Linked DNA regions of Homo sapiens. The protein of the gene in region 2 interacts with the protein of the main gene of each other region in a biochemical or structural test. Each region holds a gene or a part of one and is shown on either strand. Other genes may lie near its edges.

Evidence for each region. Proteins that work in one complex are often made in the same cells at the same time.
Region 1: the proteins of GOLM2 (region 2) and GOLPH3L form a complex in vitro, tested with the Homo sapiens proteins (one study listed by BioGRID).

Annotation. Positions count from the first base shown.
Region 1 is NC_000001.11:150,645,730-150,648,942, forward strand, and holds the end of GOLPH3L (Golgi phosphoprotein 3-like), read right to left. Parts: intron 3,020-3,213; coding exon 2,592-3,019; 3' UTR 501-2,591; downstream 1-500. UniProt on the Homo sapiens protein: Phosphatidylinositol-4-phosphate-binding protein that may antagonize the action of GOLPH3 which is required for the process of vesicle budding at the Golgi and anterograde transport to the plasma membrane.
Region 2 is NC_000015.10:44,287,017-44,293,109, reverse strand, and holds the start of GOLM2 (protein GOLM2), read right to left. Parts: upstream 4,392-6,093; 5' UTR 4,081-4,391; coding exon 3,754-4,080; intron 1-3,753.

The sequences.
Region 1 (3,213 bases), on a different chromosome or scaffold from region 2:
AAGTATAAACAATCCTAATAAACAAATGTATTATTGTCCCTTGTGCTATAGATAAAGAAAGGGAGAACAATAAGCCAATTATAAGCACACTTACATTTTTACATGTTAACTCTGTTATAGTCAGGCATGTCACCTACATTTGGAACTTAAGATTTTCAACTCCTAAATTCAGGTGTCATTTGCAAGTAGATATTAGTAGAACAGATCATATTCATTCTCTTCATGGTAATAATGGTATAATTGGCTAATTTATTTTGATTGAGATGGAGACACTATTTAGGCTTTATAGTATTAGCTGGTGTTCATGTGGTCAGCTTTTGACATGTCCTGCCCCTCAGCCTATGTATGTTACAATTGTTTTTGTATCCCTCATTTTCTACATAGGATAAAACAAGCTGGTATGCTAGTGTAAAGGGGGAGGCATTAATAGCCTTGTGTAGAAAGTCCTTAGTTCCAATTAAAACAATTTAAATTATAAAATTGTGCACAGAGAGACCAGAGAGCTGATAATTGATCTTTATTATACAGAAATGTGAAGGCCATAAGCATTAAATGAGAAGGAGTTTGGCAGTGAACATTATGCAGATTCAAACTGAAGGTATCCTCGTCTTACTGAGATATAAAAATAAACACTAAGAGTTGCAAGAAAGAACTCAATTCAACTTCTATCTCCCAATCAAGCTATAACTTTCCACAGGAAAACCTGGTTTCAATTCATGCCGAATTGTTCAAAGAAAAGAAAAAGCTAAATCAGTTAGAGACAACACATGGACTGGCTTTTGTCCTATTAGAGAGCCAGACTGAAGCTGTATTCAGCCTCACATTTAGAGACTGTTTCCTATTACAATTTATATCTCTATTTGCCTAAGAGATACCTAAAGTGAAAAACAAAAAAATGTTAACTGAGCTGGGGCATTTTTGTGGGGCTAAGTAGATTTGGCAGAGGAGAGAAATGAATAAATAATTCATTTAATTATTTCTAATCAAGAGGATTTAATGTCAGGTCTGGGTCATCTGTATTAACCCTTTGACAGTTTGTTGTTCTATAATGGTCAAGAAGCACTATCCCATTAAAGTATAATAAATGCTGAACATCAGCACAGCTCAGTGCACATCCTCTTTATATCCTCAAATACTGGACTTTATATCAGCATGCTTTCAATACCAAATTAGCCCTTTAAATAGGATCTTTCTTAATAAAGCTTCTCATTGCCCTCACTACTGAAGTAAAAAACGTGTTAGAGATTTGGCCAGAAAGATGGTTTTACTGAAATAAGACTGATGACTAGGAGCACATCTATGGATTAAATATAGACAAAACTACTCCCAGAAACCTTAAATATAGACAGACTTTATTAATTTATGTAGGAAGCCAAAAATAGGAAATAAAAAGATCTGGAGTTCAGATATACTGATATATTCAGCAACTGAAACTTACAATTCCTTCAATTCAGTCAGAGCAGAGACATTTAAAGTAGTCTGGAGGGGTGGGTGCAGTGGCTCAAGCCAGTAATCTCAGCACTTTGGGAGGCTGAGGTGGAAGAATTGCTTGAGCCCAGGAATTCAAGACCAGCCTGGGCAACAAAGCGAGACTCTTGTCTAAAACAAACAAAAAAAAGCTGAGTATGGTGGCACGTGCCTGTAGTCCCACTTAGTTGGGAGACTGAGGCAGGAGGATCCTTGAGCCCTGGAGGTCAAGGCTGCAGTCAGCTGTGATTGCACTACTGTACTCCTGCCTGGGCAAGAGCAAGACCCTGTCTCAAAAGAAAAAAAAAAAAAAAGTGGCCTGGGGGAAACAGGACAGTCATATACCCCAAGAATGGAAATTTTCATGCCACCCCCCTTCCTTCCTTACAAATTCTAATGCTGATTGCATGAACGAGGTGTTGAGAGAGACTTTTCTTCATTTAGACATTTGCCCTAGTGAATGAGGGAGCAAGAGAATGCTAAGAGGGATGAGAGAATATATTTCTGGCTCTAGGACTTTGACATCCAGGTAATTGAATCTGGGACATTCTCATTAGGTTAGAAAAGGAAAGATGAGAAAATCACTAGCAGGATATGCAATTCCAGAGACCATCTGCTCCAAAAATTAGTTTTGTTTCTCATTGCTCCTTATTCAGCGACAGTTATTTCAATAAGCTACATTATTTAGCAGAGTCTGAGAGACAAAGGCTGTGAAAACATGTATTTATGATAGAAAACAAACTCAGAAAAATATAATAGATAGTTCACTTTTTATCTCATTCACATTCTATAGCTGGAGAACTCAAAATCCCATTTAGATATTTCTGCTTATCCAAAAGCACACTGGGTGAAACTAAACCACCAAATGGGAGAAAATGTTCATTGGGTGTGTGTGGCTTCACCCAGTTTATTTACCTATGGAGTGGAAGTGTAGGGAGAAATAAGGTCTGCTTATAATGGTCAAGGTCTATGGAGAAGCCCTGAAGTTGCTCTCCCCAAATCACAAGTCTGATTCAAGAAAAGGAAACAAAAATGATGAAAACATCTCATCACACAAAACTCAGTGATGGGGTCTCTGACAGTCACCAGCCAGCAGGGGAAAAGGAGAAATCCACCTGCCGGCTTTAAGATTTATTGAAGGCTGCCAGCACAGCCCAGATCATTTCTGTGGCACTAGGCTTTGTCCCTTCCACTTCAGGGTCCAGTTCTACTAAGTCCTTGGCTCGATTCATTGCCACATCATACTTGTCATCTGTCAGAGAGGAGAAGACATTCTCTAGCACATCAGAGGAGTGGGCTAGCACCAGGAGTGCTAGTGTTCGCTTGTCCATACGCTGAGGGTCATTTACCCACCGCTCTAGTACACTATCTTGAAGTTTTTTCACTAGTCGCTGTTTCTCTGTTGTATTGGTCACTGGATGAGTAGTCATGTCAAATAGCAGGAAATTCTGCTTCTCAGTGGTTAGAATACCTTTCTCTACTAGGTTCTTTGCGATGCGCTCTCGTACATTTCTCAGCTGGTACTGTAATTTGAAGGGGTTCCAGGTCTCACCTATGAGAAAAAAGAAATAGGACATAATGAACTGAAAGAGAAAAGCAAAATGAAACATGTAGTTGTTTGGAAACTTGAATGGCTAAAATGTTTAAAAGCATAATCTTCATTCCTCAATTCATTTAATCCTTAGTCCTTTATAATCTGGCTTTGACTCCAACCACATTTCACATTAAACCAGCTTCAAAAAATGT
Region 2 (6,093 bases):
GTGGCCAAGTATGGTGGCTCACACCCAGCACTTTAGAAGGCCAAGGCAGGAGGATCACTTCAGGCCAGGAACTGGAGACCAGCCTGGACAAGATAATAAGACCCTCATCTCTACCAAAAAATAAAAAATTAGACCATCATGGTGGCATGCACCTATAGTCCCAGCTACTTGGGAGGCCGAGGTGGGAGGATCGCTTGAGCCCAGGAGTTTGAGGCTGTAGTAAACTATGATCGCACCACTGCTCTCCAGCCTGGGTGACAGAGCAAGACCCTGTCTCAAAACAAACAAACAACAATAACAATAAAAAAAACCCTGAAAAACTGTTAAGTTTAAAATACAGAGACCAAGACTACCCTTTCTACTAAGCAGCTCAGAGAGTCCTCATTAACCCCAAGAACAGACATTCACAAGCAGCCCAAGAAAGTTGTTATAGCCAGCTCAAAATACAGAAGTGGCACACCAAGTGCTGTGGCACACACCTAGAATCCCAGCACTTTGTGAGCCCAAGGCAAGATCACTTGGAGCCAGGAGTTTGAAAGCAGCCTGGGCAACATAGCAACACCCTATCTCTACAAAACTAAAAAAAGAAAAAACTTTTAAAAATATACAGAACTAGCCGGGTGCGGTGGCTCACGCCTGTAATCTCAGCACTTTGGGAGGCCAAGGCTGGTGGATCACGAGGTCAGGAGATCGAGACCATCTTGGCTAACATGGTGAAACCCCATCTCTACTAAAAATACAAAAAATTAGCCGGGCATGGAGGTGGGCGCCTGTAGTCCCAGCTACTCAGGAGGCTGAAGCAGAGAATGGCGTGAACCCAGGAGGCGGAGCTTGCAGTGAGCCGAGATCACACCACTGTACTCCAGCCTGCTTAACCGAGCGAGACTCTGTCTAAAAAAAAAAAAAAATATATATATATATATATGTATGTATACACATATACACACACAGAACTGACATTCAATAAGAGATACAGTCTTGTGAGCCAGCTGCATAAAATATTAGCCAAACACTTAAAAGTAGTTAAGATACCCAGGGCAATATTTCCCAAACTAGTGGGCTTTGCTATATTATTCTGTGCCATAATAGGTAGGCCATGAAAATAGTAACCTGTGATCAAATAAACTAAACAAGACTGAGTTAAACAAAATTGAATAGCCTTCTTTATTAATGGATTTCTCAGAGCTTTTATATTCCAGCAGGCATTATGAATTCCAAGAGGAGGATACACTAACATTTCCCTCCAAAAAAGGTTTTCATTTTTTTCTCCTCACCACCTAAGAAATATTACAAGAAGGGTATTCTGTTTAACACTACTTTGGGGAATACTGCTCTTATGGGAGAGCAAAGGCTCAATAACAGAGTCCCTTACTAGGTGACTGGAAAGAAAAAATAAATCCAGCAAAGAATATAGTGAAGAAGATAAGACTGGAGAGTCCAGTATAACAGAAGCAAGAAAGAAAATAGTTTCCAAATAGCTAGAGACAATCAACAGGATCAAACTACTGGGAGGTCAAATACAGTAAGAATAAAAATATTCTTTGGTTTTGACTAGGAAGACTGCCATTTGTGACCTTCAAGAGAATAGTTTCAAAAAAGGGGAGGAAAGAAAGATGGCAGACATTTTAAGATTAGGATGGTTATGAAAAAATAGGTAGATGGAACATTTGTAGACCATCAATAATTTGACTTTAGCAATGAAAGTGAAAAAACAAATGGGTTGGTTGGGAGAAAGGAATATACAGATTTTTTTTCCTTTACTGAGAACAGGGGACACCCACATACTGTTGAAGGTAAAAAGTGAAACAAACTGAAAGAGACAGTTCAGTAGAGCTGGGCAAGGTGGTGCACACCTGCAGTCCCAGCTACTCAGAGGCTGAAGCAGGAGGATCACTTGAGCTCAGGATTTCAATGCTATAGTGCATCATGCCTGTGTAACAGCTACTGCACTCCAGCCTGGGCAACACAATGAGACCCTGTCTCTTTAAAAAAAAAAAAAAAAAAAGAGGCTGGGCATGGTGGCTCACACCTGTAATCCCAGCACTTTGGGAGGCTGAGGCGGGCGGATCACCTGAGGTTGGTAGTTCAAGACCAGCCTGACCAACATTGAGAAACCCCTTCTCTACTAAAAATACAAAATTAGCCAGGCGTGGTGGTGCATGCCTGTAATCCCAGCTACTCAGGAGGCTGAAGCAGGAGAATTGCTTGAACCCCGGGGGGGCGGAGGTTGCAGTGAGCTGAGATCACGCCATTGCACTCCTGCCTGGGCAACAAAAACAAAACTCCGTCTCAAAAAACAACAACAACAACAACAACGACAACAACAAAAAGTCCAATGGATGAAAGAATGGAATCAAGAGTATTAATTACAACAAGAGACTTTCCTTTGAGACCAGAGAGAAGAATGTGAATTGTAATGCTCAACCATGCCAAGTAGGAAGACCTTACTTTAATACTCCAAACTTTCATGGATTTCTACCTACTCTGCCCGAGAGTTTTTCAGTCTTTAGAGTTAAGCATGCAGCGCACATATAAATGTACTGATTCCTTGACCCTATCATAGCATGTCTATGTTATGGTGAAGAGGAGGGGGTTATAGGGAAGCACTTAGCTGAGGGCCTTAATCTTCATGAAATAAGAAAGCCAGGTAGAGGCTGTCAACAGGAAAGTTAGAAGCTCACAGACAGTTTAATTCATAATGACTTACCCTTAAGTGATTTTGATATGCAAAGTAAAACTTGTAATTATAATGGGCATTTACACACAAAAATGTGAAGATTACCAAAGAAGTGTATAGAAAGGCATCTACTATCCTGCCCAGAAATTTTCATAACTCTACTATACCTACAGAAGTTGCTAAGTCATAAACTATTAATATAGTTACCAATGAGCTAATGAAAACAAGGATTATTTAGTAGCAAGTATGATTACAGTTCAATTTTAAACTTTTTATATTTAAAACTTTGTATAGTTTTCCATCTGCATAAAACACCAACCCTAATAGCAACTTAGCTATACAAAATTTCATTCTATTTTCTTTCAATGAAGACACTGACATGACATTCCACTGCTTAAAATTTATTTTCAGATTCTAATCTTTTGGCTGATTTCATTAACAATTCAAATTGAGTAGATAATGATGGATCAACTATGTCCAAGACACAAGTGTGTCTCACATATAGCTCGAGGGCCCATCTATCATAACATTTTGATCACAAAAAGGCAGTCATAGCTGATTATTTAGTTATTCAATACATCACCCTATAGAGATTTTAAAAGTCACACAGCTTAAAAAATATATGATGACTACCATAAGTAGAGGAGTCAGAGGCGGCTTCGTTCTTTAAATAACGAAATTAATATTGATCAGTGTGCACGGAATAAAAATGAGACAATAACCACACCAAACCTGGCAGTCGCCAGATTTGTGTGTCTTTGAAGGTAAGGGGGCCACACAGGCCAGATGATTACTACTGCCAACTCACCAGCTGAGCTTAGAGAATAGGCAGCATCTGCACACAGTCCACTCTTGAGAACCAGAATTTACAGTCATTTTTTTCTGGCAGGGACCAGAGAACGTGGCACTGATAAACTGGGAAAAGTCTGACAGAAACAGGGTTGTTGGGGGTGAAAGGAGCCTTCAGGACTGAAATACTGGAAGGCATAAGACAACAGCTAGCGGATTAACATCCCGCCCCAGACCCCGGGGAGAAAAGAAACCATGGGGTTTGAAGAGAAAAGGGTCGTCCTTACCTTGTCATCCTCGCATCTCTTCCCGAGGCCCTCTCTGGCCTGCAGCCGGCTGCTGAGGCGGCCGTAGTCGGCCTCCTTCTGGTCGATCTGTTTCTTGTGCGTGTCCACCAACAGCAAGAGGTCCGAATTGCGCTTTTCCAGCCGCCCGCGGGCCACTTCGGTGCGCTGGACCTGGCCCTGCAGCTCGGCCACCTCCTCCTGAAGCAGGACGTGGCGGGAGGAGATGCTCCAGTAGTTGAAGGCGAGGACGACGATCACCACCAGCAGCACCACCAGCACGAGAGAGGGCAGGCGGCCAGCCCGCCGGTTGGCCCCGAAACCCACCATGGGGCCAAATCGGGCTGTACCCTAGGGGCCTCGCCGCAGACACCTGCAGGCAGAAGCCCAGGCCTCGGCTGGAGTTGCCCGGCGGACACGGCCCCAGGGCCGGCCGAGGGAGGAGGCGGGCTTACCGGTCGGCTGCGAGCCGGAGAAGGGGGCGGGGCCGCAAGCCGCAGGTCCCTCCCCGCCCCCCTCCTCAAATCAGGCCAAAACGCGTTCCGGAGGCTTTGAACCCGACCCTGCACCTGCCCAAGGGAACCGGGAGAACCCAGCTGCCAGCGTCCCCCAAACCCAACACCTCACGGTTGGGAGGCGGGGAAAAAAACCGGAAAGGGGCGGATGTACCCTGGCCCCACCCACTAGCTGGGGCCGGGTCGTCTAGGGGACCATTTCCGAGTTTCCGTCGACACCCCTCTTGTCGCGAGAACGTTGCTTCCTCTCGTCTCTCTCTCTCTCTCTCTCTCTCTCTCTCTCTCTCTCTCTCTCTCTCTCTCTCTCTCGCTCTCTCGCTCTCTCGCTCTCTCGCTCTCTCGCTCTCTCTCGCTCGCTCTCTTTCTCTCTCTCTCTCTCTCTCTCTCTCTCTCTCTCTCTCTCTCTCTCGCTCTCTCTCTCTCTCGCTCGCTCGCTCTCTTTCTCTCTCCCCGCCCAGAGTTTTCTCTGTCGCGTAGGGTGTTGTGTTAATTTTGGCGGTCTCAGATGTCTCAGGTACCTGGGTCGGAGTCCTTTCTGTTGTTATCTACTGGATTCCCTTGATTCAAGGCCTAGGGAGTTCCTGCCCTACACTGGCCCTCGCGAAAATATTTGTCTTTGAGGACGTCTGGGGCTGCGACCGCGGAATAGAAAAAAATAGTAGGTGAGCTGCTGCCAAAAAGGAGCGACTAGAAAGGTTTTGTACTTGCTTCTGTAGAAGGGGAATTTCTCTTTTGTGCTAATGATGTGGAAAGAAAAAACAAAAAGACTGTAAAATAGCGATGCCCTAAACATAATGGAGAAAAGCGGGAGAAACCAAGCTTTAGGACTGAAAGGGGTGGTGCCAGTCTCGTTTCCTAGGTTACTGCTTTCACGAACCGAAAGAATTTCAGAATGTGGCGAGCTCCAATTTTTAAACGCACTGCTGCTTTTGCCTCAGCTGGGCTTCCAAACAGAAAGTCCAGAAGCTGCCCTCGATGAATCGTAACTAATGCACTGTTACTGCCAGCGAACACATTCCGGGTTAGAAATAATAGCTCTAACAAATTGTTTTGCGCGCCTAGTCTCATATTATCTTCTCAACAACGCAATTTTACAGATGAAGAATCCAAGACACATAGATGTTTGGGAACTTTCTCTTATCTGGTTTTAAATAGGCTTGAATCCAGATCATTGAACTCTAAACACCAGTGCTGTCTGCATATAGCAGATTGTTTATATGTTAAGTGTGAATTTCAGTAGTGCAAAAAAAAAAACAAAACCTGCCTCTTTTTTTTTTTTGCATAATTATTTTGTCCGTGCATAGAGAAATAAAAAGGTACTGGCTCTAACCTGTTTAAGGAGAGGATGGGGTTGCCTTATTTTTCAGACCTCAGGTTGAAGAACTTCCATGAGTATAAAACCTCAAGAAGGAAAAACCTTGGTATTTTTTATTCGAATCAGAGTGATATGATTTTGAGGCAGGAAGACTTGTCATCTTAATTATTCTGTGCTTCCTATCCTCAAAAATTATTTCCCTAAGTCCCGTAGTAGCGTAGAATTATTGCATCTTCAAAGAACAATGATTACTCTCTCAGATGCAGTACAGAAAACCACCACCAAAATTATTAATACTTGGTTCACATCAGAAGTGAGCTCTGGCTTCATAAGATCTAACAAATCCTCTCCACTCTCAGATGACAAGCCGACTTTGGCAAAAGGAAGCAAAGCAAAAATGAGAAATCATTAACTATAAAGAGCCTTTCCATCTCTGCTTTCCTCAACTCATATTGGCCTTGCTCTGCTCAACCAGCAATCGAAAATTATTCTAGGCCGGGCGCGGTGGCTCAC